Linked DNA regions of Homo sapiens. The protein of the gene in region 1 purifies or fractionates together with the protein of each later gene. This does not show direct contact. Each region holds a gene or a part of one and is shown in the gene's direction. Other genes may lie near its edges. The genes, in order: COBL, PACSIN3, ACTC1 and PACSIN2.

Region 1 (5,911 bases):
ATCTGTTTTAAATGCATTATTTCAGAAGGCCTGGAATGTACAAGTACCCTCCTAATCCATGTGTATATTTAAAACATTCATGTCTAGTGCTTCATTCTACAAGCATTTCCGGAGAACCTACTAGGGTCCGGGCACTGTCGGAGCTGCTTGTGATAGACGAAAGAAGCTTCATCTGTGCCCTCAGGACCTCTCAGCCAGAGGAAGGGGGCAGGGGTGCGGGGTCTGCTATTGACCTTAGGAACTTTTCCAAAGAAGCTGGGACAGGCTAATCCCGATGACTTGTGGATCTTTCCTCCCAGGAGGGCAGCGGGGCAAGCATCTACCCCGACACCTTCCTGGAAGTCAAGGTCGTAGCTCCCCTTTGACAGGTGCGAAAATGGGGCACAGACATCATAAGTGACTTCTCCCAGCCCTTCCGTGTGTCCTGCTGCTGCTGGGCCCAGACACCTTATCAGCTCCTAGCCGCTTTGGGAAACGTCCTATTGAACTGAGTTCCAGTCTCTTGTCTGGGCCCTCAGGTGCCTGTTTTCCCACGGCAGGAATTAATTGATGCGGGCCACACGCGTCATGACACTTGGCCTTGACCACAGACCTTGTAAGAAATGATTAGACATGTGACAGTAACAGGAGGCCCCAAACCAGGAAAGAGAAAAAACACACCAACTCTCTTTTCATCTAAGCCCTAGGTCCTCATATGTGCATTAGAGAACTCCAAGTTGCTGTGACGAGGGAATAGCAATTTCTATCAGGATGTGAATGTGACCCACAATACAATTGCATCACCCCTGGTTTAGTTGCTCGTAATGTAAACCTGTGGTGTGCTTTGGTTAATGTGAAATTGTTCTGAGGCCTAGGGGTCAGTTCTGTCTTTGCAGACTCTTTGCGTGTGACTGTTCTGCTTATTGCAGCTCTACTGAGTCAGCTGCCTCTTCTGCAGGTAGAACGGGGAGGAGCCTCCTGGGAGAAGCACACCTACCACAGTGACCATCCTCAGGGCCAGCAAATGCTGTTCTCCACTCCTCCAGAGCTGTTCCCCACATTTGACCAGCTCATTCCTGACTCATCCCTTTGTTCCTTTATTAACCTCACGTCTTCAGAAAGCCTCCCTCAGTCTAGATTAGGTTCCCAATACAGCGTCACATAATTTTTCCTTCATAATGCAAACCACAGCTCTAATTTCTCTAGCAGTTGGTGTGGTTTTTGTTGGATGCTTGCCTTCCCTTCCACATCACAAGTTCCATGAGTCTTGCCCATCGTGTCATGTGATGGAAGGGTAGACACGCTCCCTGGTGCCTCCTTGATAAGGCCACCAATCCCTTCATGAGGTTCAACCCCCATGACCTCATCAAATTCCAGAGTCCCACCTCCTAATACCACCATCTTGGAGGTTGGGATTTCAGCATGTGAATTTGGGAGCACACAAGCATTCAGACTGTAACACTCCCCCTATTAATAAGTGGGGCCCTCAGGAAACATCTGGCTAAGTGGAGCACTGTGTTTGTACAAGTAGATCAGAGGTGTCTGATCTTTTGCCTTCCCTAGGCCACACTGGAAGACAAATTGTGTTGTACCACATATAAAAAACACTAACGATAGCTGGTGAGCTTAAAAAAAATTGCAAAAAAAATCATATATATATATATATATATATATATATATATATATATATATATATATTTTTTTTTTTTTTTGAGATGGAGTTTCTCTCTTGTTGCCCAGGCTGGAGTGCAATGGTGCGATCTCAGCTCATGCAACCTCTACCTCCCGGGTTCAAGCTATTCTCTTGCCTCAGCCTTCTGAGTAGCTGGCATTACAGGCATGTGCCATCATGCCCAGCTAATTTTTTATTTTTAGTAGAGACGGGATTTCTCCATGTTGGTCAGGCTGGTTTCGAACTCCCGACCTCAGGTGATCTGCCCGCCTTGGCCTCCCAAAGTGCTGGGATTTCAGGTGTGAGCCACTATGCCCACCCTCATAATGTTTTAAGAAAGTTGACGAATTTGTATTGGGATACATTTAAAGTGGTCCCAGGCCATGAGTTGGACAGGCTTGAAGTAGATGTTAAATCCCCACCATGGGAGTTCAGGAAGAGGGCCCGAGAGAACCTAGAGAAGAGAGGGATATGGAGGAGCATCAGGAAAAGGGCAGGTGCGCCCAGTGTCAAGACAGACCCGGGTGGTGTCGATCCTCCCAGTTCTTCTGGGCCTTGGGGCTTCACTTCCTCATCTGTAAGATTGATGCGAGGGATGTGTGAGAGAGCATGCACAGGGCAGGGTCTGCATCACCACCACCATCACCATCACCATCACCATCACCACCACCACCACCATCGTCACCACCACAGTTACCACCACCATCACCACTGCCACAACCACCGCCATCACCACCACCACGATTACCATAACCACCGTTACCACTGCCACCACCACCACAATTAACCACCATCACCACATGGAAAGTACCTAGAATACTTCCTGTGTGCTTACCATGTGCCAGACACCATTTAAAGTGTGACACAAGTCCACTCATTAAAACATCAGCTTAACCAAACAAGCAGTTTATTATTGTCATTATTATGGGTATGTCTCCAATATAAAGATGAAGAAACTGAAGTTATAGAGGGTAACTCGTCCCACATCAAATGTTAGTCACGATCCTCTCAGGCACACCTGAGCAGAGGGCAAGGCCTCAGATGCGTACCCACACAGCCCAAGAGGCAGTGTCCTCTGTCTGGACCAGGACCCCAGGGCCCACCTCCCAGTTCCCTTGACCTCGGGCCTCTGCATCCTGCTAGTCGTCCTTCCCTGGCAGCTTTTACGAGGAAGCTGGAGCGTGAGAAGGTCTGTGAGGACAGCCCTGATCACAGCCTCCTTTCTGCAGGTCAAAGGAACTGGGAAGGGGGTTCCAGGAGTACTATTGCAAGAGTGGCTGTGCACAGAGCTCTCTAGCACCAGAAGATCTGCATCCTGGGCTTATTGACATACCAAATAACTGTGAATCTCTCTTCCCTGCAGGTGCCCTTGCTCGTGTGAATGAACAGAGGCCAGAGAATTGCAGAAACCCACCTGTAATATGCCCACAGGCGTCACTCAAGGAGTCTGCATAGCCAGGAACATCAAGTTTTGGTGTTACTTTCTTGTCTACAGGCCAAATGCGCACAGTTGATTTTCGGTGTGTTCCTGTATAACGGCTTGAAAGGAAAGGAGAAGATGCTGTGTCGCTGCGCAGCTCGTGTGCCAAGGAAATGTGTTTTGCCTCTGAATATCTTAAGTTGCTAATAAACGATTCTTGTTGGCAGGTTAATGGGACTATAAATGCTGGAGCCCAGCACTCACACTTAATTATATTTATGGGCAAAGTAAAAAGAATCATGCCTTAGACTGATTTTGGACCTTTGAGACTTTTACCACATACAGATGGATGAAACTACTTACTGATTTAAGATCTTTTGAATTTTAGAAAAAACATATGAATCAGATGGAACAATCTGAATGTGATATGCTCCATGATGCTGTGTGTTTTGGTAGTAAGAAAAAAAAATTGGGAGGCTTTTCAAAGGTGGCTTTGTTAGGTAGTAAAACTGCTGGATTCTTCTTCCTCAAATATTTGGGGCTAACACTTCACAGAGGGTCACAGTCCATGATCTGACCAACTAAGCTTTTAAAAATCAACTATTACCACCCAGAAAACAGTCCTACGTGATCATGTGGCCAGGGCATGCCCGAGTCCTGCAAGGGTGGCGGGTGGCTGAGGTCACACCACCACTGGAGTGGATGGGCAGTGCCCCACATGGACAGCCATTCCCCAGGCTATGAAGTGACATAGGCCTCCCCCACGGTGCCTGTGTACGGAGCCTGATGACTTCACTGGGAGCCTTCTGGAATCCTGCAGAGGGTCAAGGAGCAGGGATGTTGGATGCCCACCTGTCAAGAGTTCAGATCAAAGTTGCGCTGAGAGCATCACAATTTTGGTTCAGCCTTGACGCGTTTGTCCAACAGCTCATTGGCTCCCTTTGTATGATATCGTGGTCTTCTCACATGGTGCCCAGTCACCAATATTTATAATGAGGTCTAACTACAGCAGTAGTTTTTCATATATATCTCTAAAACATTTTGTTATATTGAAAAAAGTAATAGAAATCAAGATGTGTTGATGAAATAAAATGTGTATCTGAGTGAGAAAACAAGTATGGTGAGGTCACTTTAATGTTTCACAGCGATCTCAGATCTAGGCCTCAGGTAGAATGGAAGCTGTTCTGCATTCACTGATTAACGTTGCTAAACTCTTGGTGAGGCACGAGCTACCAGCCAATTGCTCTTCATCACAGCTATCTGTCTTTTAGTGCCACAAATAAAAGAAAATCAAATCTTAGCTGTTGTGTGAATTTCATACTACAGTTGGTTTGGATACCCCTCTTCCAAAATGGGAAGGACGGATTCAGTTATTCAACCAACACACGTTTCTGGCTCCCTCCTGCACTCCTCCATTCCCTGGGTTACATGCAGCTGACAAACAGGCAAAAATCCCCACACTTGTGAAATTCATGTTATGTTACTATGGAGGAGACAGACCATAGATGTGATATAAGTTAGCAAAATGTTGAGTACATTTAGGCGCTGATAAGTGTAAAGAAGAAAAACCATCGGGAAAGTGGGACAAAGGAGACGGGGATGAAGAAAGGCCCAGTGAGAAGGTGACCGTTGAGTAAAACCCTGAAGGAAGTGAGGGAGCAAACTCCGGATGGACGCATGACTGGCAGCGAGAAGAGTGAGTGCAAAGGCCCTGGGGGCAGGACGCTGCCTGGGTGTTAGGGGCACAAGGAGGCCATTGTCAGGAATGGGAGGTCGAGCAGATACAATGTTGCTGGCCTGTGCCCCTGGTCTTCACATACTGCATGGTGTTCCCCTTCTCAGAGCAGCCCTGCTCCCTGGCCAGACCAAGGGGGCAGCAGACAGAAGGGGCCCAGAGGTGGGCCTCGGGAAGGACGAGAGGTTGCCCACCTCCCTAGTTCATTTTCCTTGTGAGGGGAGGGGACCCACTTTAGGCTAAATCTACTTTTGAAATTGTCTTGCCTTCTGTATCTCAAGCTGCAAGCTGCGCAGAAGCCTGGGTTTTGAAGTGTGGAATATGGAATAATGACAGCCTCTGGCCTTACTTTGGTCTTTTTGCAGAGTGTTTCATGATTATTCTTGGTTCATCTTCTCAGTGAGCCCAGGTGGTATGAAGGCAACATCTTCCAGATGAGCACACTGAAGGTCCAGACGATTAAGTACCTCAGTGATGTTCTTAGTGTTGAAACATGCTTCTGTGACTCTGGATTGCCTACAGAGTTAAGTCTAAACCACTCACCTACAGGACTCTTAGTGCCTAGATCCACACTGCCTACACACACAGACACTACCCGCATCCCACGTCCCCGGCCCCCGCCCCCATGTCCCGTATCAACATCAAGCCACCACCAAGTTCCTGAATGCACCCGGGAGCTCCTCTGTGCCCCCGTCGCATTAACATGCCAGAGATGTCAGCACCACCCCTGCCCACTCGCATAGACCAGAAGTGCCAACCCTGTCCTCGAGACGCAGTCCTCTGTGTGTCTCCGTCACAGTCAAGGTCAAGCCCTCCTTGCTGCTCCCTCTGCGCCCACGTCTGCCTCTGTTCCCTCTGCCTGACCCCCACGTTATCTTCCCATCTGGGGCTCACACCTGCCTTTCTGATTATAGCCAGGAGCCGGGGCAGCATGCAGCTCTGAACTTTCCAGGCCAAGTTCCCAGGAAAAGGCCTGGTCATGTTGGTTATCCCAGCATATTATTACTGGCATTCTCTCCTTCCCAAAATGTCCCAGTTTAGGTCATAAATCCTATGGTATTTTTATTGTCTGGCTCAGGTGAGGTATTCAGTAAATGTTCAATGA
Region 2 (9,807 bases), on another chromosome or scaffold:
CCAGCCTGGCCAACATGGCAATAACCCGTCTCTACAAAAATACAAAAATTAGCCAGGCATGGTGGTGCACACCTGTAATCTCAACTACTTTGGTGGCTGAGGCAGGAGGATCGCTTGAACCCAGAAGGCAGAGGTTGCAGTGAGCTGAGGTCGCACCACTGCACTCCAGCCTGGGTGACAGAATAAGACTCTGTCTCAAAAAAAAAAAAAAAGCTACTCCACAGGCAGAGCAGCAGCAAGGGCTGCTCACCTAAGAATACCTTTTTTTTTTTTTTTTTTGAGACGGAGTCTCGCTCTGTCGCCCAGGCTGGAGTGCAGTGGCGCTATCTCGGCTCACTGCAAGCTCCGCCTCCTGGGTTCACCCCATTCTCCTGCCTCAGCCTCCCAAGTAGCTGGGACTACAGGCGCCCGCCACCACGCCTGGCTAATTTTTTGTATTTTTAGTAGAGACGGGGTTTCGCCTTGTTAGCCAGGATGGTCTTGATCTCCTGACCTCGTGATCCACCCGCCTTGGCCTCCCAAAGTGCTGGGATTACAGGCGTGAGCCACTGCGCCCGGCCCTAAGAATACTTAAGTTATTTTTTGATTATATGCTAAACAAGGGGTGGATTATTCAGGAGCTTTCTGGTCAAGGGGTGGGCAATTCCCGGAACTGTGGGTTTCTCCCTTTTTTAGACTACATAGAGTAAATTTCTGACATTGCCATGGCATCCGTAAACTGTCCTGGCACTGGTAGGAGTGTCTTTTAGCATGCTAATGTATTAGATTTAGCGTATAATGAGTAGTGAGGATGACCAGAGGTCACATTGCCATATTGGTTTTGGTAGGTTTTGGCCAGCTTCTTTATCGCATCCTTTTATCAGCTGGACTCAGCATGCCTAACCTCCTTGGAATGCAGCCCAGTAGGTCTGAGCCTTATTTTACCCAGCCCCTATTCAAGCTGGAGTCTCTCTGGTTCAAATGCCTCTGATACCTCCACCCCATCATGACCTCATTATTCTAGAGATTCGAGACCTGCACAGTCCAATACAGTAGCCACTACTCACATGTAGTTGTTAATTTTTTTTTTTTTTTTTTTTTTTTTTTTTTGTGACAGGATCCCACTCTGTTGCCCAGGCTGGAGTGCAGTGGCCCAATCACTGCTCACTGCAGCCTTGACCTCTCAGGCTCCGGTGACCTCAGCCTCCTCAGTAGCTGGCACTACAGGTATGTGCCACGACACTCAGCTAATTTTTCTTTTTTTTTTTTGACATAGAGTCTCGCTCTGTCATCCAGGCTGGACTGCAGTGGTACAATCTTGGCTCACTATAACCTCTGCCTCCTGAGTTCAAGCAATTCGCCTGCCTCAGCCCTGCCCTGAGTAGCTGGGACTATAGGTGCATACCACCATGCCAGACTAATTTTTGTATTTTTAGTAGAGACGTGGTTTCACCATCTTGGCCAGGCTGGTCTCGAACTCCTGGCCTAAAGTGGTCCTCCTGCCTCGGCCTCCCAAAGTGCTGGGATTACAGGCATGAGCCACCACGCCTGGCCTAATTTCAAAATTTTTAAATTGGAGGAAGACGCGGTCGTAGGTGCTGTGAGTCTCTCGTCCGCACTCTCCTGCTCCTGACTCACTGCTGTTCACTCTCGCTGAGGAAAAAGTCGGTCAGGAAGCCACGCAGCAGCCATGGCTTTTAAGGATACCGGAAAAACACCCGTGGAGCCGGAGGTGGCGATTCACTGAATTCGAATCACCCTAACAAGCCGCAACATAAAATCCCTGGAAAAGGTGTGTGCTGACTTGATCAGAGGCGCAAAGGAAAAGAATCTCAAAGTGAAAGGACCAGTCCGAATGCTTACCAAGACTTTGAGAATCACTACAAGAAAAACCCCTTGTGGTGAAGGTTCTAAGACATGGGATCGTTTCCAGATGAGAATCCACCAGCGACTCATTGACTTGCACAGTCCTTCTGAGATTGTTAAGCAGATTACTTCCATCAGTATTGAGCCAGGAGTTGAGGTGGAAGTCACCATTGCAGGATGCTTAAGTCAACAATTTTAATAAATTGATTACCAGTTGTTAAAAAAATTTTTTTTTAATTAAAAGTTTATGTTTTCTCTTTTTTTTTTGAGACGGAGTTTCGCTCTTGTTGCCCAGGCTGGAGTGCAATGGAGCAATCCCAGCTCACTACAACCTCCGCCTCCCAGGTTCAAGCAATTCTCCTGCCTCAGCCTCCTGAGTAGCTGGGATTACAGGCATGAGCCACCATGCCCGGCTAATTTTGTATAGTAGAGATGGGGTTTCTCCATGTTGGTCAGGCTGGTCTTGAACTCCCAGCCTCAGGTGATCCACCCAACCTCGGCCTCCCGAAGTGCTGGGATTACAGGCGTGAGCCACTGCACCCGGCAAGTTTATGTTTTCAATAGCCACATTTCAAGTGCTCAACAGTCTCATGCTACTAGTGGCTATCATATTGGCCAGCACAGCTATAGAACATTCCCACCACTGCAGAAAATAATTGGACAGCACTATTTTAGATACAAATACCCACTCGCCCACCCCCCAGTTTTTAATTTTAGTTACATAATTTACACATAGGTACATTCTCATTGTAAATTTTCTAACATTACAAAAATGTCCCTTACCAATTCTAGACCTCTGCCTAAAGATAAACGCCAAAATCAGTATGAAGTATATTTTCTGTGAAGATTTAGTGTGTTTTGCATTTTGCTTTTTTCCCTTGACATCGTCTTGGAGGTCTTCTTATAAGAATACATCTCTTGGCTGGGTGCGGTGGCTCATGTCTGTAATCCCAGCAGTTTGGGAGGCCAAGGCGGGTGGATCATGAGGTCAGGAGTTTGAGCCCAGCCTGACCAACATGGTGAAACCCCGTCTCTACTAAAAATACAAAAATTAGCCAGGCGTGGTGGCACGTGCCTGTAATCCCAGCTACTCAGGAGGCTGAGGCAGGAGAATCGCTTGAACCCGGGAGGTGGAGGTTGCAGTGAGCTGAGATTGCGCCATTACACTCCAGCCTGGGCGACAGAGCAAGACGCCGTCTCGAAAAAAAAAAAAAAAGAATATGTCTCTCTCTACCTTGTTCTTTTTTTTTTTTTTTTTTTTTTTTTGGTTTGTTTTTGTTTGAGATGGAGTTTTGCTCTCGCTTCCCAGGCTGGAGTGCAATGGCGCAATCTCAGCTCACTGCAACCTCCGCCTCCTGGGTTCAAGCGATTCTCCTGTCTCAGCTTCCCAAGTAGCTGGGACTAAAGGCACACGCCACCACACCTGGCTAATTTTTGTATTTTTAGTAGAGAAGGGGTTTCACTTTGTTGGCCAGGCTGGTCTCGAACTCCTGCCTCTAGCTTGTTCTTGAGTTTTTGCAGAGTAATCCACAGCATGAATGAACTTTAGGTTGTTCAACTATTGCCTTCATGATGAACATTTGTTTTCAGTTCTCCCCTGTTGCAAACAGTACTATATGCAAACATCATTGTACCTCTTTCTGCATTTGTACATGTTCGTCCAGGGTAAATACCAAAAAGTAGAATTGCTAGGTCACAAAGTCATATGGTAACACCCCTGGGGCTTGGCACACCCTGAAGCTCCTGCCTAGAATGCCTGTCCACGTGACTAATTCCTACTCATCAAGACCTATCAGTGTCATGTCCTGTGAAAGGCCGTCCCTTCTGCCTGTTTTCTCTCAATACTTCCTATCTGCCTTGCATCATTACGGTACACTTGGACTCTGCCTTATTTAACTTTGTACTCCCAACATTCCTAGCATAGCCTTAGCATGGAGTAAAAACTCAAGTGTTTTCTTGGCTGGGTGAATGAATGCATAAATAAACAAATGAAGGCACAGTGGTTAGGATATTCCAGAAACTCAAGGTGAGTCTGTGAGTGGCGTGAAATCTGGCTATGGACCAATCTGCCCATTGGTACCCTGAGCCAAATGCCTTGCTAGATTTGTCTTTTTTTCTTTTTGAGAGAAAGTTTCCTTCGACCAGGCTGGAGAGCAGTGGCGCAATCTCAGCTACCTAAGCCTCCCGGGTTCAAGCAATTCTCCTGTCTCAGCCTCCCAAGTAGCTGGGACTACAGGCGTCCACGACCACGCCTGCTAGTTTTTTTGTGTTTTTAGTAGAGATGGGGTTTCATTATTGGCCAGGCTGGTCTTGAACTCCTGACCTCAGGTGATCCACCTGCCTCAGCCTCACAAAGTGCTGGCATTACAGGCGTGAGCCACTGTGCCCAGCCTTAGATTTCTGTCATTTTTTTTCTTTTTCTTTTTGAGATGGAGTTTTGTTCTTGTCGCCCAGGCTGGAGTGCAATGGCACGATCTCAGCTCACTGCAACCTCCACCTCCCAGGTTCAAGCGATTCTCCTGCCTCAGCCTCCTAAGTAGCTGGGATTACAGGCACCCGCCACCATGCCCAGCTAATTTTTGTATTTTTAGTAGAGATGGGGTTTCACCATGTTGGCCAGGCTGGTCTCAAACTCCTGACCTCAGATGATCCACCCGCCTCGGCCTCCCAAAATGCTGGGATTACAGGCGTGGGCCACCGCGCCCGACCAGATTTCTGTCTTTATGCAGCCCTCTGTCCACTGACATCTCATCTTGAACTCTGGGTTGAGGACAGCACTGATGGAGCAGTGTGGATGTTAAGGGCTCTGGCCATAGAGCGCAGAATGGGAGCCCTGGGGGTAGCATTAGCTTGGAGCTGGCTTTCCAAAGGCATGTCTGTCTACTTTCAGCTTAGAAGCAGCCCCCTATGCTCTGGGTTTTATTTTGTTGTTTTTTTTCCCCTACAGTACCTCAGGGGCAATTAAGATCAGCTGCAACATTTCTGCTTTCTGCTCCCAGACTTGAGCCCAAGGGAAGCCAGATGTTTTCCAGTCCACATCCCCTTCTCTTTGTGGTCTGATGAACAGCCCTGTTTTCTGAGTCTCTCTATGGCCTGGCTTTCCCAGATCCCACAGCCTGGCTGCCAACTTTATTTTTAATGAGGTTTTAATAGGTGGCTCCTGTAATTAATTTCATTCTTGTGTTTTCACACTTCGGTCTAGGTGCCTAAAGGCCTTCAGGCGCTAGGAGGGATGTTAACTGATTTTAAAGAATACAAAACCCTGTGGCTGTGATTTGCCATTTTCCCAGCTCCTCTGATCTGCAGTTGTTTTTTACAATCATTAATTAGCTGGGGCTCATGGCTCAGCGGAAGGTCAGCTGGTCACCTGTCATGTTTTATAGAGGTAGAAATAGAGATAAGGGACTTGTCCAAGCCCTAAGAGAGAGTGGGTGTTGAAATTGGTCTCAGAAACCACATCCCAGGTTTCAGATTCACTACTCAGCTATGATTTGCCAAACACGGCCAGAATCCTCAGGCCAAAGGTGGCGCGCCTTGGGTGCCCCACAGGTGTCTTGGGGAGGCAGTTTTACCCTTCCATTAGCACTGCCCAGCAAGTGAGCCCTCGGCAGGCAAAATTACCCCCATTCATTTTCTCCAGGTCCCTTTCCCGTTTTGTGAGCGGATTCATCTGCGTAAAGAACGCGTCAGTGATTCCTCCTGGATTTAGAAACAACATAATTTTGCTATTTTTAAAGCTGCCGTTTAAAACTCCGCGCGCACGCACTCACACTCTTCAGGGAGCTGAGGGTGGGAGGAAAAGTACGAGCTTCAGAGGGCGCAGCCAGGCGCCTCAGCTTCCCAGGGCTCAGAGCCGCGTCCCTGGGGGCGCACTCCTCTGAGAGCGCCGGGGCTCTCCGACCCGCTGCGATTCTGCGCGCCCGGGACCTTCTGCGTCCGGGACCTTCTGCGCCCGGGCGTTCGACCCCGTTGGTCCGCGCTCCCCCTGGTCTTCAAGGCTCAGGGCACCGCCGCTGGGTCACCGGGCCCAGGAGAGAGTGGGAGGGGCGGAGAGGCCGAGCAGGTGGCGATTAGGTCAGCTTCGGAACATTCTTGGACCGCTCCAGTGGATATAAATAACAGACGGAGCCGCTCTGCAAAATCTCACCCCCGGGGGAAAGCGGGGAGAGGGAAGTAGGGAGAGAGGAGGGAGAAGGGATTTATTTAGCGTGGGGTGGCATCGTGGCGATATGGAAAAATGTACCAGACTGATAAAGGGGGTGGAGGGGCGAAGGGTAAGAATGAATCGTGGTACAAAATCTGGAAATAAGAACTCGGAGCGGGAGGAGCTTAGGCCTTTTTGTCCCACCCCCACCGCGTGTTCGTCTCAGGCCTTAGAAGGCGCCCCAGATTAGCAGGGCAGCTGTGGAACGGTAGGGCACGGTTTTGGAGTCCCAGCCCTGCCTGACTAGAGGGAAATCTTGGGCAAGCCTCTGAAAAGCCCCCGAGCCTCAGTTTTTGCATCTGTACAGTGGGAATCCTAATGCTTACAAGGGGTGGTTGTGAGCCTCGCCTGAGCCAATTTCTAAACAAGCTGTGCAGCTAAAAATGTAAGGCAGTGTAATTCCCCCGGCCCCTCTCCAAGGCTGCCCGTGCCGGCCCGGTCCCTTCTTGCTCCCTCGGGTCTCCCAGGCTCTGCAACGGTCCGGGAGAGGCAAAGCCGAAATCTGGCTCCCTGCGGCACCGGGGCGCAACCCTGGGGAGCCCGCCCAGGCACTCCGCACACGGGCGAAGCAGAGAAACCTCGACCCGCGCCACAAGAGCCGCTGGTCGCCGCGATGCCTGCAGCCCCGCTGCCCCGCCGCGTGGGGTTGAGGCAGCGGCGGCCAGGAGAGGGGCGGGGCCGGGGGCCGGGGGCCGGGCTTCCCGGGGGAGGGCCCGGCGCGCTCCGGGAGGCCGCGGCGCGGGCCCAGGAGCGGCAGGACTCGGGCCGGAGCGTGGCCGGACCCCCACCCGCCGAGGGGCCCAGGGAGGACGCGGTGAGTGCCCTGGAGGGGACGCGCGGGTAGGCGGCGGCGGGTGCGGTGGCTCGAGCCCGCCCTCTCCTGCTCCGGCTTCTGAAGTTTGCAATGGAGCCGACTCCCGCCCAGGGAGCCCCCGGCCACCCCGCTCTGCGTGCCGACGGGAAGGGCCGTAGCCGCGCCGAGGGGCCGTCCCATCTGCGGTGCCGCGGGCTTCGCAATTCCGCAGGCCGCCCGGGGGAGGCGGCGCCGGCGCTGGAGGGCTGAGCCGTCTTCAGGGGCCCCTCGAGGGCCCCCGTCCGCTCGCCTCGCGCCCGCCCCGAGGCCCCAGAGGGTCCTCGCTCCCTGGCGATCCCTCGCCCTATGCAGCGAGCCCCGATTCCTGGGTCCGCTGCCCGGGGCCACCATCTGGAGCCCACGGCAAGGCCGGCCCAGGCAGGGGGCGTCCCCTCCCCTTGGCGGTGATCAGTGGCCCCACCCCCGCCAAGACCAAGTTCAACAAGTTTGGCCAAGAAGTCTAGAGCTTCGGTGGCTAGGCCTGGCCCTGCCGCTCCGCGTGGCTCCACGGGCTCCGAGTTATGCAGCTCCGGGCGGCAAGGGGTCCTGTCGAGGGGCGCGGTCCATAAGGGTTGAGGCCAGAGGCGCGTAGCCTCTGGGCGCCGAGCTCTGGAGTGGAGGCTGGGGTTCGGAGTGCGTCATCTGGAAGCAGGCACCCCGGCCGGCAGGTCGGGTTTCCAAAAGTGCCCCTTTGTTATGCCCCTCCCTGGCCCTGCCTCCTCCCGCTTTGGCTGCGCCACCCCCTCCCCCAGCCTCCTGATCTCCTGGCTGGCTCTGGCTTCTGGTTCCAGCCCCTCTAACCTCGCTGTCCCTCTTCGGACCAGCCTACTGACGCCCCCTCCCCTCCCCCCCGCTCTGTCCTCAAATCCTAGAGCTGCGGGCGCACCGGGAGGGGCTGCCCGGGAAAGAAGCCCTTGGGCGCAGCCTGTGACTCAGGTTCCAGGGATGGGCCAGGCAGAATGGCTGAGCTCCCTCCCAGGGGCAAGCCCCCAGCTTCTGGAAGAGGTTGGGGCTGGTCTGGGGCCGGGTACCTTCAGGCCTCAGGTAGGGAGACTGGGTCTTCCCTGAACCAGGGACTTCCTACCTTGGCCCGTGCAGCTGCAAGGAGACCCTGCCAAGCCCAGGAAGACCTCTCGGAGCCGAACGTGCTGGCTCCCGGGGCTGGGAAGATTGCATTACCTGCTTTCTGAGCTCTTGCCTGCGGTGGGGACTGATTTGGGTCTCTGCTGAGCTCAGGAGGCACAGGGTGCCAACCTGCTCAATGGGGGCCAAGGTGCAAGCCCTCCTTGCTTGCTTGCTGAGAGGTCAGGCTGGGGCTGTGGGGCCTGGCTGCACCCGGGGCTTGGGCCTGTGTTTGCTCTGGGAGGCCGGAGGGAGCTGTGCCAGCCCGGTACACACAGCTTGCTCTGTTCTGGGGCCAGAGAGAGGGAAGGGGTGGGGGGCAGCTCTCTGGGGAGCAGGGAACTCGGAGGCTGGAACAGGCAAGGGGCCCCAGGCTCCTGAGGCTGGACTGGGGCGGCTCCAGAGCCCTGTGATTCATGGCAGCAGCTCTCTTTCTCTCCATCGCCCTGTCAGGTCCTTTCTGGGCAGACAGGACACACTGCAGAGGGAACCAAGTGACGAGCTTGTGAGGCCCCTGGTGGGCACCTCCATTGCCTGGGTCTCCGCGGAGCCCCTAGCTCTGTCTCCTGTTAGCAGAGGGGGAAGCCCACTTGGACCAAGCATTCCCACAGCTGCTGGAGCGGGCGCGTTTCCTGCGCTCCAGGTGGACATCGCTTCTTTTCTCACTTAACTAATTATTGCTGATTCCAGCGCGTGGGGACACACAAATCAGAATCCTGGAAGCCTCTGTCGGTGACTGAAGATAGACACTGTCCTGTCAGCCACAACTCCATGGGTTATACACCCCGGCTGAAGGGTCACCCGGGGCTACAGGAGCAAGGACAGAGAAACAGGGGAAGTGACTGAGGAGAAGATGCCTTAATTGGAGGTTTGAAGGAGAAGCAGAGGTGCATGAGTTTGGAGGAAGCGCTGTGACAGCGCCCTGCTTTGGGGACAAAGGGCGCACACTGTCCTCCTGGGTCTGGCTGTGTCCCTTGGGCCTGCTCAGAGAGGAAGCGATTTCCTTCTAGGGTCTGTGAGTCAGTCAGTGCTGGGGACAGCTGAGACCCTGCCCAGAGGCAGGAGGGGAGCAGCCACATGCCACTGTGTCCTTGAGTCCCTGGGGCCATGGCTCTGGGGTTGGAATTGGCTTGCCGTCCTCTGCGATTCTAGGGAACTTTTTTTTTTTTTTTTGAGACAGTCTCACTCTGTTGCCCAGGCGGTGGTATAATCTCTGCTCACCGCAACCTCCTCCGCCTCCTAGGTTCAAGTGATTCTCATGCCTCAGCCTCCTAAGTAGCTGGGACTACAGGTTCCCGCCACCACGCCTGGCTAATTTTTATATTTTTAGTAGAGACGAGGTTCCTCCATGTTGGCCAAGCTGGTCTGGAACTCCTGACCTCAGGTGATCCACCCACCTCAGTCTCCCAAAGTGCTGAGATTACAGGCGTGAGCCACCACACCCAGCCTGGGAGACATTCTTATAGTTGGCCATCGCTTCTCACTTCCCCATGCTGCCCTGGACGCCAGGCCTTTGGAGGGCAGGCCCGGGTTGTGTGTTCCCCACGGAGCCTTGCGGGCCCTCAGTGGATGTGTGGAGTGAGATGAGTATCTTCCGTGACTGCAGGGCCCCTCGTATTTCTGGTGCGTTGCTTGGTTTGAGTTTCACACCAGCCCTGGCATGGCAGCTGAGCACACAGAGGAGTTCCATCTTAGAGGGAGCTGGGGCCTCCTTAGGAGGAGACAGTTACATACACTTGTTCGGGCTTCCTGGCCAACACAGAAGCCAGGCCTCTTGGTTCCC
Region 3 (8,654 bases), on another chromosome or scaffold:
AATGTGGTCTTTAGTCTGAGTGCGGTGGCTCACGCCTTTAATCTCAACACTTTGGGAGGCCGAGGCGGGCAGATCACTTGAGGCCAGGAGCTCGAGACCAGCCTGGCCAACATGGTGAAACCCTGTCTCTACTAAAAATACAAAAATTAGCCAGGAATGGTGATGTGTGCCTGTATTCCCAGCTACTCAAGAGGCTGAGGCAGGAGAATAACTTGAAACTTGCAGTGAGCTGAGATTGCCCCACTGCACTCCAGCCTGGGGGACAGAGCAACGCTCTGTCTCAAAAAAAAAAAAAAAAAAAAATGTAGTCACCAGGATCCAGAGAAGCATCTTCCTTCTATGTTCCCTTCTATGTTCTCCCTCCTCCGTGCCCCTTCCTCCTTCCCCTGCCCTCCTTTTCTGAGTCTTATTAAATGGTTCATTACAGTTGGTCCTATCATGTTAGAAGACAGTGACGGCTGGGACCTGCCAAGAACAGAATCCATCTGGGGCCAAATACCCTCTGCCTGGGTTAATCCCCTTGGTGGTTGCATATAAAACACGGGGAAGTATGCTGTGAAGATTAGCCATGCCTCATATATTGGACTCTGAACACCAGGATGTGTGGGGGCCTGCAGCCCTCACCATCATGTCACTTTCTCCTTTCAATGAAAACTGAAACCCAGATCCAGCCAGAGGGCAGTGGGGGTGAACAAATGTGTAGGCAAAGAAAATAGGAATGTTTAGGAAGGCTAGATCCTCCCCCCGGTCTGATCTAAACCGAGGCTCTCCCTCCCCCGGCACACAGAATGCAGGAGGGACAGGAGGTGATGGGGAGGGCTCATGGGGAGGAATTAAGTGTGGCTCTGTCTGTTTCTGGCTTCTCTGTAAATACTGTGACACCTCCGAACGGAGGAACAGCTGAGATAAGTGACTGCTAATCCCCCAGTGCCGGGGAGGAGGCTGGGCCGCTCCCTTCCAGATCCCAGCAGATGGTGGATGAAACAGACTTCCCCCGAGGCAAGGGCAGTGGGAACTGTCCCACCTTCTGTTCCTTCAGTTTGCCCTGCACGTCTCCCTCATGGCCAGTCCACGCCGAAAAGGGCTTCACTGGCCCTCAAGAGCCCTGGGGACCCGCCCCAGCTCTGCCATCCCACTGGGATCTACAAGGTCAGCCAACCTGGACTCCAGCCAGCACTGGCAGCTTGGGCAGCATCCAGCAAAGCTCTGTGGGCTTCAGAGAGAACAGCCAAGCAGTGCGGCTAAGTTTTTCACTCTGCAGAGAAACATACCTAGGGGAGAACAGTGAGGGCTCATTTAAAATGCAGATTCAATCTTCCAGGGTGGAACCCAGGAATCTGAATTTCTATGAGGCAGTCTAGGTAATTTGGCTGGAGGCGGTTCTAGCATCACATTCTGAGAAATAGCAGACCAAGTATATGTGAAGGTATTTTTGGTGGTGGTTGGGAATAGGGCTTAAAATCAGGTGCCTGAGTTTGAATTGTCACTCCACCATTTGCTCACCTGTGTGACCTCAGACAAAAAAGGCTCAGTGGTTCCCTACCTCATAGGATATAAACTGGTCTTTCTCAAACTGCAGGAAGCACAATTTAGTCACAATTAGCAATAAAAAAAATAACACTCGGAGACTGCACAACAATGTGAATGCACTGAACACTTTTGAACTCTGTATTCCTAAATGGTTAAGATAGTAAATTTGATATATGCATATTTTACCATAATTAAAAAAAAATCTAGAATGTACCAAAGAGGAGATGTCATTTTTTTCTTCTTTGTTTTGTAATTTTTTTTGAGATGTCATTTTTATATGCTTAAAAAGCCAATCTCAATTTTCAAATTAAGTGGATCTGTAAAAAGTAGTTTAAATAAAACTCAGTCATGAAATCTTACTTTCCTGTTGGTTTACATTTTAAAATATATAAAATAGGGTTCAAAGTTTTTAAAATGTGGAAATCAAGGCCAGGCTTGGTGGCTCATGCCTGTAATCCCAGCACTTTGGGAAGCTGAGGCTGGCAGATCAGTTGAGCCCAGGAGCTTGAGACCAGCTTAGGCAACATAGTGAAACCCCGTCTCTTCAAAAAATACAAAAATTAGCGGGGTGTGTTGGCATGTGCCTGCAGTCCCAGCTGTTTGGGAGGCTGAGATGGGAGGATCAGCTAAGGTGGGAGAATCGGCTAAGGTGGGAGGATCACCTGAGCCTGGGAGGTTGAGGCTGCAGTGAGCCCTGATTATACCACCGCACCTGATTATACCTGGGTAACAGAGGGAGACCCTGTCTGAAGCAAACAAACAAATACATAAAAATAAAATAAATAAAATGTGGAAATTGAGTGGTAATACAAATAGTAAATATCAAACAATCATAAATTTTTAAGAAATAAGCATTCGTTCTTGCTACACACATAACACATATGAAAATACACTGTTTTGAGTGTTAGGCAATGAAATTGAGCGGAATAGGAAACACATTTTTCAAACATTTTAAGGGTGAATATTGTTTCACAAAACTGCTGTTGTGTCCTGCACTGTTCTACTGGCCTCCCACTAGAGCCAATGGTCCTGAGATGAGGGGGCTGGAAGTGGCCTCCTAGATCCCCGAAGCCTGTGCGAAGGACAAAGGTCAATAATCATGGTTTTCCATTCCTGAGAGTCTTTGCACCTATAGCAGTCATAGTGGGAGTCTCTCACCAGCCACTCCCATGCAGAAACTCTTTCTCTCACACAAATGTTCATAAACTTCAGTTCTGCTCTACTTTTAAAAACGAACAACACATCCTGGGGAAGGCTTTCTCGGCAACTCTTTCAGACCTCCATTCCCTTTTTGTGACTATCCTGCTGATACCTCTTCTTCCCTCCCAGTTTGTGCCATAGCTGTCTGACTTTTCTGTAATTGCCACGGAGGATGAGTCCTGCTCTGTTTTATTTATCACTGAATCCTTAACTAGCACAGTTCTTGTCCTGCAAAGATTTGCTGAATCAATGAAGAATGAAATCAACCTGATTCTTTAAAAGGCAGAGCTACTACTGCCTCCAAAAGTATCATTATTACACATACAATTTGCTTTGTATCTTCCATATTACTTACAGCATTTGTTTCTAACTATTACAATACACAATAACTTCTGCAACAAGTGTTATGGTATCACTTTTGAGAGGGAAAACTTGGGGCTTGGGAAGGTTAAGTGTCTTGCTCAAGACCAAACAGATAGTTAGTAAGTGATAAAGGCAGCATTTGAGCCCAGTTCTGTCTGGCTCTGACACCAGTCCCATTTCTCCTTTTCCTTGGTTTTTCTATATTTTCACGAGACAAGGCAGTTCTACTCTTGGCATCCTGTCAATAAACATTTTCACTGTAAAATGCCTGCTGTGCTGCACAGAGTAATCTCAGCCAGGTCTCTTACCCGACCCCACCACACAGCTGCCCATCGCGTTTCTTCTCCAGACCAACCCAAACATGGTTGGGGAGTTCAGAGGGGAGGGCCCAGCATTCCCCAGTCGGGACAAGTATCTAATCAGCAGGCCTCCTCAGCATATCAGCCCAAGACCACTCTAGAGAGAGATGCCAGTGCCCAGTTTTCTATTTTTAACTGGTGTGAACTGGAGGAAAAACACAAGCATTAAAAATCAAAGCTCCAGTCAAGAACTGAGAATGCAGGGCACCCCAGGGCAAACTAGTGATCTGTGTCCTTCTTACATCTCCCTCTTCCTTCTCCCTCTCCTCATTTCATGTCATTTTTCTTTTTCCTTCTCAAAAGTTCAAGATCCTGCAAAATCTGTTTTCCACAGAGGAGATGATATCTGTCATTTATGCCAATGCTTCTCACACTTTAATGTACATACCAAGCAAATGAGGATCTTGCTGAAAAGCGGATTGGGATGGCTCTTGAGATTGCATTTCTAGCTCATTTCCAGGTTATGACAATACTGCTTGTCCATGGGCTGCACTTTGAGTAGCAAGGATTGGTGTAGTCCTATAGTTTAAGTTGTTGCTATGTTCTCCATCAAAGTATTTGCCTTTGCAGTCTTGTCTCCACCTGGAGTGAGGGCCTCTGCCCCCAGTTTAAAGATGCTCATCTCCCCACCATCAAGTGGGCAAGCTACTTTTGGCATTTGTTCCTTTATTCACTTTGGCAGCAGGGGATCCTTTTCTGGCCTGAAGACCAGAGTCTGAATTTGAGCAAAACCCTGCAGCATGGATGAGGGCTACCCAATAACTGGGCTGGGGTAAACCTGGTCCCTTCTCCAGCAAGACTTGGCCAAGCTCTCACAGAAACCCTTTTCTGACTCTTCCCTGGCCAGACCCTGATCCATGCATGGGTTGGAACTCGGGTGGCCTTGGTTAATCTCAGCTTTCTGACCTAGATGAGCCCAGCACCAGCTCTCTGAGTAAAGCCATTCAGGCTGGCGGGGACTAGACCAGAAGGGTGCCCTGTCCTGGGTGCCCCTTTTGCAGCCACTCAGATGTGCTGCTGCGGTGTCCTTTGTGCTGGTGGCAGCCCTGGAAGATGAGAAGCCGCTGTTGCTCCCCTGCTGCCCTGGCCCAGCTGTCAGGACCCCTCAGCAGAGGGCAGGGCGCCAAGCCTTCCCACTGCATGTGGCTTATTGTCCCCAAGGCTGGCAGGGCTGCGGAGGACCGAATCCACAGACCATCCAGGGAGCACCCACACCCCAGAAAGGGGGAGGGGTGGGCTGGCGTCACTTAGTCTTCCCCTGCCCCCTACCCTTCAGCGCCTGCCCCTCCCCAGCTCCCTATTTGGCCATCCCCCTGACTGCCCCCTCCCCTTCCTTACATGGTCTGGGGGCTCCCTGGCTGATCCTCTCCCCTGCCCTTGGCTCCATGAATGGCCTCGGCAGTCCTAGCGGGTGCGAAGGGGACCAAATAAGGCAAGGTGGCAGACCGGGCCCCCCACCCCTGCCCCCGGCTGCTCCAACTGACCCTGTCCATCAGCGTTCTATAAAGCGGCCCTCCTGGAGCCAGCCACCCAGAGCCCGCTGCCGCCGGAGCCGAGCCGACCCGCCCCGCCGACGGTGAGTCAGCGCCCGGCCCTCCGCGTTCACTCCTCGCCTGGTCCGCGGGCCGCGCCGGACGCCAGCCCCGCGCCGCCACCTGGCCAGCCCGGCCCGCATTCAGCCAAGGCCCCAGCTCCTGCCGCTCTGCGACTGCCTTTTTTTTTTTTTTTTTAAAGCCCACACTTTTTGATTTGGTTCTAACTTGTTTTGTCCTGGGCGTTGGTCCTCGCAGGACCTCGCAGGGGCTCTAAGAAGGGGAATTTTGTGGCTCCCCAAGGGGCTTTTGGGTCCCTACTCTCGTGCGCTTTCCCCTCCATCTGGGGCACAGGCATGGCGATATGGACAGGGCTGGAGATCGAGTTCCCAGTTCGTGAAAAGGAAGAAAGTTAAAGGGCTGGGGAGGACTAAGGGGCTGGGTTTCTTGGGTCCCTCCTTGCACCTGGCACCCTAGCTGGAACTCCTGGCCAGGGAGCCTGGGTGGATTCCTCTGCCCTTCTCTGTCCCCAGTCTCCTCCGCGGCTTCTTCCCTCCCTTTTATGATTCGAGGGGAAGGGAGGTGGCAGGAGTGTTCCCCGCCCAACCCCCTGTCCAGTCCCCACAACCCCCTTCTGCTCTGTCCTGTCCTCTGGGTGCGGAGAAGGCCAGCTGCACAGGCAGCTAAGCGTGGTCCGCCCTCCCCTCCTCAACCTGCAGAACCCCCTGAAGCTGTGCCAAGATGTGTGACGACGAGGAGACCACCGCCCTGGTGTGCGACAACGGCTCTGGGCTGGTGAAGGCCGGCTTTGCGGGCGATGACGCGCCCCGCGCTGTCTTCCCGTCCATCGTGGGCCGCCCGCGGCACCAGGTAAACTTCCCGCCGAGCCCCCCGTCCCACTCGGGACCCCTTCAGTCCAGCGATCTAGGAAATGGCTCTCACCTGACCCTCTTGTTCGATGAACTCTTTAGGCCAAATTAAGAGAAGGCTGATTGACTTCAAATCCAAGCCAAGGCAAGCAATACTCCACAAAACCCCAACATACTGAGGAATGTACACCTGAGTGGCACGCCTCTAAAAGGGTCCCACTCCCTGGTGTGAAAGCCACCTGCTTCTCTCCACTAATGGCCTTTTGGACTTTTAGTCTTTAGTGTCTTCTCTGCCTTATACACTTCATTTTCTTCCTTGTCCTCTCTTTTCAGTCCTGTTTAAAACTTCTAACAATATCACCTCTCCCAACCAACCAGGACCAAATCCACATTCCTCTCTCATGTTCACAGCCAGTTTACAGGGTTCCCCAAAGGTGTAATCAATCTATCTCCTTCCTGGCTGTTGCATTTTTAGAAGCCAGGCGTGACAGAGGCAGCAAGTGCCATGGTGATAGTGACATACCACCTCGTTTGTTAAAAGACATGCCATGCTCTCTGGGTTTGTCACATGCCTGGCCAGACAGGCTGCCAAGCAGGAGAGCTTAGTCCTCAGAGCTGGTGAATGACTCCAGAACAGCTCTGGACAGGCTGAATTTCACTGTTGGAGTGAGGATGGCATATCAGCCCATCATTATGTGTTCACTTGAATGTCAAAATCTTTTTCTTAGGAGAAATACAATGTGTCATTAATTCAGTCATTCCAAAATGCAGTCATCTATATTCCAGTTGACATGGGTGATGAGCTTAATAACTTAATGAAGGCATATGATATTTTTAAGGTGAGGTGAGGCTCTGCTTCTTCAGTGGAATAGCTTCATTCTCTCCTGAGTTATATTCTCAACAATAGAATTATACATCTTTGGGGGAGTGGGGAGAAGGTAGAAGATTGATTTTTAAATAATTCTTCTAAATTGGGGTAAAATCGTATTGCTTGTTATTTCTGGTATTTAAATATGTTCCTTGACTTGGGCAGTTAGATATAAATGGACAAGACACTGATTATATTCCTGACATGGTGAGAGCATGATTTTCTCATTTTTTCTTCTCATAGGGAGTTATGGTGGGTATGGGTCAGAAGGACTCCTACGTAGGTGATGAAGCCCAGAGCAAGAGAGGCATCCTGACCCTGAAGTATCCCATCGAGCATGGTATCATCACCAACTGGGACGACATGGAGAAGATCTGGCACCACACCTTCTACAATGAGCTCCGTGTGGCTCCCGAGGAGCACCCCACCCTGCTCACAGAGGCCCCGCTGAACCCCAAGGCCAACCGGGAGAAGATGACTCAGATCATGTTTGAGACCTTCAATGTCCCTGCCATGTACGTGGCCATCCAGGCAGTGCTATCCCTGTATGCTTCTGGCCGTACCACAGGTATGCTGGGCTCTGGGGACAGTTACTGATGAATCACATTCCCAAGTCACCGACCTTGCTGTGAATCAGATCCCCCAGTTGAAAAAGGGATAATCCCTTTCCTCCCATTCCCTAGCAAGGTCTGTGCTAAGAGAAAGAGTTAACAGTAGTGCCCTGAGGTTAGTTTCGGAGCACAATTATTGTTGGAGCTGATAGCTTGTGGAGATAGGTCCTTCCCTCATTTAAAGCTCAGCGCAGTGTAGCAGCTTGGAGTGCAGCAGTCATTGTTATGTGTTTAAACCATCACATCACCTGGGCAAGCATCCCCAAGGAGAATACATTCCATACAGGGTCTGAGTCAAAAGAGAGAGAAACGTGTAAGTTCAATAGGAGCAAAGAAAAACACCCTTGGGTGCTTACATAATGTGCTCGTGGCTGACAAGAAAGATGGTCATTTGAAAGTGTCCTCGGGAATTTTTTCTACTATAATAGTTAAAAAGATGAGCTGCAGTTTGCTTCAGATTTAGTATTCCTGATGCGCATTTTTATTCTTTGTGTGTAAGGAATCTAATTTTATCTGGATCAATGCCCATTGCTAGCATCTCTTAGCCAAGATTGGAAGCGGGCTTTGCCGTGGCTAGAGCAGTGGTGTTGTCCTCAGGAATTTACCTTGTTCTTGTCTACTTCCCCGGGCAGGCATTGTTCTGGACTCTGGGGATGGTGTAACTCACAATGTCCCCATCTATGAGGGCTACGCTTTGCCCCATGCCATCATGCGTCTGGATCTGGCTGGTCGGGACCTCACTGACTACCTCATGAAGATCCTCACTGAGCGTGGCTACTCCTTTGTCACCACTGGTGAGTGTGTGTGTCTCATCTGCCACAGTGTGGGTCTGCTTTCCTCCTCTCTCACTGAATCCGCCTACCTCCCTATAATTGACTTCTTGCTTCAGAGCATGACTGTGATACTCTTTATTTCTGTAGCTGAACGTGAAATTGTCCGTGACATTAAAGAGAAGCTGTGCTATGTCGCCCTGGATTTTGAGAATGAGATGGCCACAGCTGCCTCTTCCTCCTCCCTGGAGAAGAGCTATGAACTGCCTGATGGCCAAGTCATCACTATTGGCAATGAGCGCTTCCGCTGTCCTGAGACACTCTTCCAGCCCTCCTTCATTGGTGAGTTGTAGGGTCTGGTGCAGAGGCACGATTTTCCCTGGAAATCTTAGGGTCTCCCAGAGTAAAATCTAGAAGGCTCAAGAAGCCCTTGAGTTAAAAGAAGTCATAGTTTGGATTCCCACACAGCTCAACCTCAAGTCCTGATGGCTCATTAAAGGGGAAGTCTATGTTCTGCTCTAGTGATATAATAAAGGATGACACACTGAGTTC
Region 4 (4,690 bases), on another chromosome or scaffold:
GCAGGACAAAAGAAACGCCAGGGGCCCGAGGCACGAAGCGGTGGAAAGAGATGGTGGTTCATCGTGGCTGCTGCCCTGTGGCCCCTGCATCTGCTCCTGATGCCTCTGGGTTAGATCTGCAGGCGCACTGGTCTGGCAGAAGCGGCACGACAGTGGGAGGCTGAGCCAGTGCTTACGCATGTCCCACCCTCCCAGGGTTCTTTAGTGTCTTAACACTTAATCTTCACAGTACCCCCAGTCCACAGATGAGGGCCACAGGCCCAGGGAGTGGACGCAGTTGGTCCAGGTCTCCCAGCCAGTGAGTGATGGCTGTGGGATTTGAGCCCAGGCAGTCCGGGGAGCACTGGAAGCCCCAGGTATTAGCTCCGCAGGCATGTTGACCAGCATTGCTGCCATACAAAATCCAAAGCATCAGGGAAATGCTAAACCAGGGGGAAAACTGCATCTAATTCTGAAAAATGGACCAAAAAATGCCAAAGAGAGTTACAAAACTTCAAACTTAGCAATAAAGGCAAAACAGCACTGGGACTATTTCTTTCCCACCAATTGCTTGCTCCTGACGAGGTCCGAGCCAGCAGGCCCAACTGGCCTTCCCTGCAGTGAGTTACCAACCAGAAGCACACAGGCCCCTGCCCACCCCTGGGCTCTGAGCTGCTCTGCTTCCCTAACCTGGCAAATGCCAGACCTGGGGCCCTACCCTAGTGCCACCTCCCCCTCACCACCCTAGTCTGCCTCCTTGAGACCAGGATCCATCAGTTCCTCTCATCTCTGTATCTCCTCTTCTACCCAAGGCCTGGCCAGAAGTAGGAGGTCCTTCAGGTTGGAACAACCAAAGATAAATGGAACCACGTTAATACATTAGAGCCACAGGGAGATTCCAGAACAGCGCCAGGGGCTCCTTCTCAGGGTCTCAGGAAGGGTTGACACATGGCACCGTGCACAAGTCATCAGCCAGGTGCTGGGGATAAAATGACAGGTATGACTGTCAGACATGGTCCCTTCCCCTCGCAGCCTGGAAGTTGCAGAGGAGAGGGATTAGCAAAGGCAGAGAGACCCCAGAGACAGCTGCTGGGAGCAAGGCGGCCGGGGCCCTGGGGAGGGGACAGAAGAGGCCCAACGTGAGGGAGGGGCACAACCGAGGGACGATTCCTGCCACCTGGCCAGGGTGGTGAGGAAGGCACAGCCCTATGGAGCTGGATGCCGCAGTCTCAGTGGGAGCCACTGTGGCAGCTGAGAGCAGCTTGTTCCAAATTACTGTGTGAGACTGTCATCTCTAGGTCTGTCAGAGGCCCATGACCAAAGAGGCAACTTAAAATGCATGCATTTAGTAGAGAAATGACCAGGCCCTCGGCCTGCCCGCCACAGAATGCCTGGCCCTCCACCCTCTGTGGGCTCAAAGCTCGTGAATGCGGCTCTGTAGCCCACCGTCGGTGTCATACCTCTCATGGAGACGGCTCCCTCTTTGTCTTGCAGGGGATGAGCTGACCAAGATGGAGGACGAGGATGAGCAGGGCTGGTGCAAGGGACGCTTGGACAACGGGCAAGTTGGCCTATACCCGGCAAATTATGTGGAGGCGATCCAGTGATGAGTCGGGGACAGGCCAGCGGGGGGACGGAGGCGGCGGGCCCAGGAGCCTCAGCCAGCCACGTGGGCATCCACTCCTTTTCCTGCAAGAGATGATGGTTCCATTGCTCTTGGCTTCATGGTGTTCCTGGAAGGCAGATGAGCTGGTCATTTCGCCTGGGACTCGGCACCTTTCCGAGTGCAGCTGGAGGGATCTGAGCGCAGGAAGACGCAGAACAACAGAAATAGCCGCCCCTCCCCGCCCACTGTGCCTGTTGGCCTATCATAGATCTCTATGTTCTTGACTTTGTCTCTCCTTTCCGAGTCAATGGTGGGTTACACTGATCTTGTTCCACTGATTACTCTCTCTGACGAGTCCATCACCTGCAACTTAAATGAACAAGCTTACATCCCATTTTGAGTGAAGATTTTGAGGTTTTTAATTTAAAGGCTGTGTACAGTTATACTTTTTTATACACCTGTTCATTTCTACTTAAATTATGGCACAGATTGATGCGCACCAGTCTTGAGGAAACGATCTCCCTATTCCCTTACCCTGTTACTCAGCCACGCCGTGTGTAGGCTTAGCCTCAGGTGGCAGATGTTTGAGGAAAGGAATTATGCCAGGAAGGTGGGACCGGGTTATGGTCGGGTTTCTATTGGGAATGCTCTTTGTGCTTTTGGGCATCTGAATGGAAGCTTTACATAGAACCTTAGGTAGAACTCCCCCAAATCGCCATATTTAAAAATTATTTTCACTCTATTCTTGCTTAAAACTGTACTCTTTTGCAAATTAACAATTTTATCACTGATTCAGAGTTAAAAAGAAGACTAACTTTTCAAGCAAATGCATCTGTAAAGATGCTTTAGATTAGACTGTCATGTCTCAGTGTCTATCTGTATATATTATTTGATATTCAGAGAATCTAAAGCACTCGTCTACTGTTTTAATGAGATTTAACAGCTTTTAACAGTGAGTTTCGTTTGTAAACTGCTTGAAGTCTGTGGCATTCAGGCACACGTCTGGCTGGCCGGCTGGGTCTCCTCCCGGGCTCAGTGGGCCTGGGGCCTCTCTGACGTGGTGCCTGCTGGAGGGAGGCTCGTCGTCACCAGCTGACTGCTGGTCCGGCTTCTGACCGGCCTTTGTCCTGGCTCCGTAGCAGAACACTGTAAAAGTGCCCGCGTCTTTGCAGTAGTTGCAGATTTCAGTCGTCGTGTTACTTGTGCACAAACAGAAGCTGGGTCTTACCCGCAGCACGAGTGTCTCGGGCTGCCCGGAGTCGCCCGGGAGCAGGTGCTGCAGCCAGAGTTACGCGGGGGCCACGCGGGCCGGCGGGGGTGGGGGGAACGTGGGGGAACCTGTGTTTCACGTGACTCAGCAGTGCCCGCCGCCGTCACCAGCTATGCATTCACTCCGTTTCCAGTGAGCAGATGTCTTGCTTGGAAAGTGGACCTGTGTCTGTGTCTGTCCTGAGAACTTACCAGCAGAAATCCTCATTTCTGTGCTACGGATTTACCAAAAATTGTCAAGTCTTTTTCAGTTTAACAGTTCCTTTACATGTGTAGTATTTGAGGAAAAAAATCAATAAACAGTTGATCTCGTGCATATGGAAGTCCCTTCGCCATCATCTGTCTTCATGCCCACTTCACTTGGCGGGGGTGGCCTCCCTGGGGCTTACTAGCTTTGGAGCTGGGCAAGATCCAGGGCACAGGACCCCTGCCCAAAAGGCCACGGCCCACTGCCCCTGCCAAACTGGAGGTTGGGGATTTGAGGCACCTGAGCCCCTTGGGGTTCCCTTCTCCCCGAGACCTGCTGCTGTTTGACCTGGGCTTCCACATGGTGCGGGCATCGGCTGGCGCCTCTCTATTGCCCCAGCCCAAACAGCAGGACAAGACTGACATCACCCATAACTCTCCTATGAGCACATTTTCCTGAGCACCTACTGTGTGCTCTCCACTTTTTACTTACATTATCTGCGTCTCCAAACATCTCCACAGGGTATGGGCAAGTCTCCCCATTTCCATTCTACCGAGGAGGAAACAGAGGCTCCAAGAGCCAGCCAGGGTTTCTTGAGGAGTCTCAGCCAGCCCAAAGCACTGAGCGAAATCCCTGAGGAACCACCCCCTCCCTCGCTGGAGAAACTGAGGAGGGAGGAGGCTTGGACTGGCTTGAAGACAGGAGAGAAGCAAGACGTGAGGGCGGCTGTGGCCACGCTCACCGAGCCCTGGGAAGGCTGCCCAGAAAAGCACGCCAGCTGGGCATGGGGCCTCACAGAGCACCTGGGAGGAGCAAGGCAGGCAGCTGCCCCTGCAGTGTGGCTTTGTCCCAGCTCAGCAAGGGTATGGGACAGATCCTTGTCACGCAGCCTCCTTGTCTGAGGGGTGGCGGGTCCCCTGCTCCCAGCTTCTGAGGAGTTGGAGCCCTACAGCGCAGGGCGGACACCCGGCTCGGCCCACAGCCCCAGGCTGCAGAGAAACAGGCAGAACGGGGTTGGGAGGGAAGGTGGGGGGTCAGAAGCAGGCTCCTGGTGCCAGTGGCCTCAGTCACTGCCCAAACACCATGGCAAGACCACGGTCCCCGCTGAGCTGGATGAAGCAACCTCCACTCTGAGGCTGGATCACACGGCCCCCCCCGTGAGAGATCTGGCAGGGCCTCTAACTGCCCATCTTCCCTCTCCTGCCCTGCCCTCAGGGGCCAGCTTGGAAACTTCAGCTTGTCTCTAGGCCTCAGTTTCCCCAAGTAGAAGTGATACTTTTCCAGTTGGAGAGTTAGAGCAAGAAGAAAAGGTGGCCTGGGCAACATAGTGAGACCTTGTCTCTACAAAAAGTTTAAAAATTGGTCGAGTGTGGTGGTGCATGCATCTAGTCCCAACTACTTGGGAGACTGAGGCAGGAGGATTGCTTGAGCCCAGGAATTTGAGGCTGCAGTGAGCCATGATTGCACCACTGCACTCCAGCCTGGACGACAGAGCTCTCGAGACAGTCTCAAAAAAAGAAAAAGGCCGGGCACGGTCGCTCACACCTGTAATCCCAGCACTTTGGGAGGCCGAGGCGGGTGGATCACGAGGTCAGGAGATCGAGACAATCCTGGCTAACACGATGAAACCCCGTCTCTACTAAAAATAC

What was found.
Region 2: the proteins of COBL (region 1) and PACSIN3 purify together in Homo sapiens (affinity purification with mass spectrometry; 4 studies listed by BioGRID and IntAct, with this or other methods). This does not show direct contact.
Region 3: the proteins of COBL (region 1) and ACTC1 purify together in Homo sapiens (affinity purification with mass spectrometry; 2 studies listed by BioGRID and IntAct, with this or other methods). This does not show direct contact.
Region 4: the proteins of COBL (region 1) and PACSIN2 purify together in Homo sapiens (affinity purification with mass spectrometry; 4 studies listed by BioGRID and IntAct, with this or other methods). This does not show direct contact.

Annotation. Positions count from the first base shown.
Region 1 is NC_000007.14:51,014,672-51,020,582, reverse strand, and holds the end of COBL (protein cordon-bleu), read left to right. Parts: intron 1-3,014; coding exon 3,015-3,032; 3' UTR 3,033-4,371; downstream 4,372-5,911.
Region 2 is NC_000011.10:47,183,405-47,193,211, reverse strand, and holds the start of PACSIN3 (protein kinase C and casein kinase substrate in neurons protein 3), read left to right. Parts: upstream 1-6,777; 5' UTR 6,778-6,863; intron 6,864-7,364; exon of another isoform or gene 7,365-7,570; intron 7,571-7,836; exon of another isoform or gene 7,837-7,946; intron 7,947-8,477; exon of another isoform or gene 8,478-8,667; intron 8,668-8,714; exon of another isoform or gene 8,715-8,911; intron 8,912-9,807.
Region 3 is NC_000015.10:34,791,880-34,800,533, reverse strand, and holds the start of ACTC1 (actin, alpha cardiac muscle 1), read left to right. Parts: upstream 1-4,984; 5' UTR 4,985-5,028; exon of another isoform or gene 5,029-5,391; intron 5,392-5,625; exon of another isoform or gene 5,626-5,703; 5' UTR 5,704-5,725; coding exon 5,726-5,854; intron 5,855-6,416; exon of another isoform or gene 6,417-6,692; intron 6,693-6,964; coding exon 6,965-7,289; intron 7,290-7,964; coding exon 7,965-8,126; intron 8,127-8,252; coding exon 8,253-8,444; intron 8,445-8,654. UniProt on the Homo sapiens protein: Actins are highly conserved proteins that are involved in various types of cell motility and are ubiquitously expressed in all eukaryotic cells.
Region 4 is NC_000022.11:42,868,253-42,872,942, reverse strand, and holds the end of PACSIN2 (protein kinase C and casein kinase substrate in neurons protein 2), read left to right. Parts: exon of another isoform or gene 1-451; intron 452-483; exon of another isoform or gene 484-958; intron 959-1,439; exon of another isoform or gene 1,440-1,473; coding exon 1,474-1,586; 3' UTR 1,587-3,170; downstream 3,171-4,690.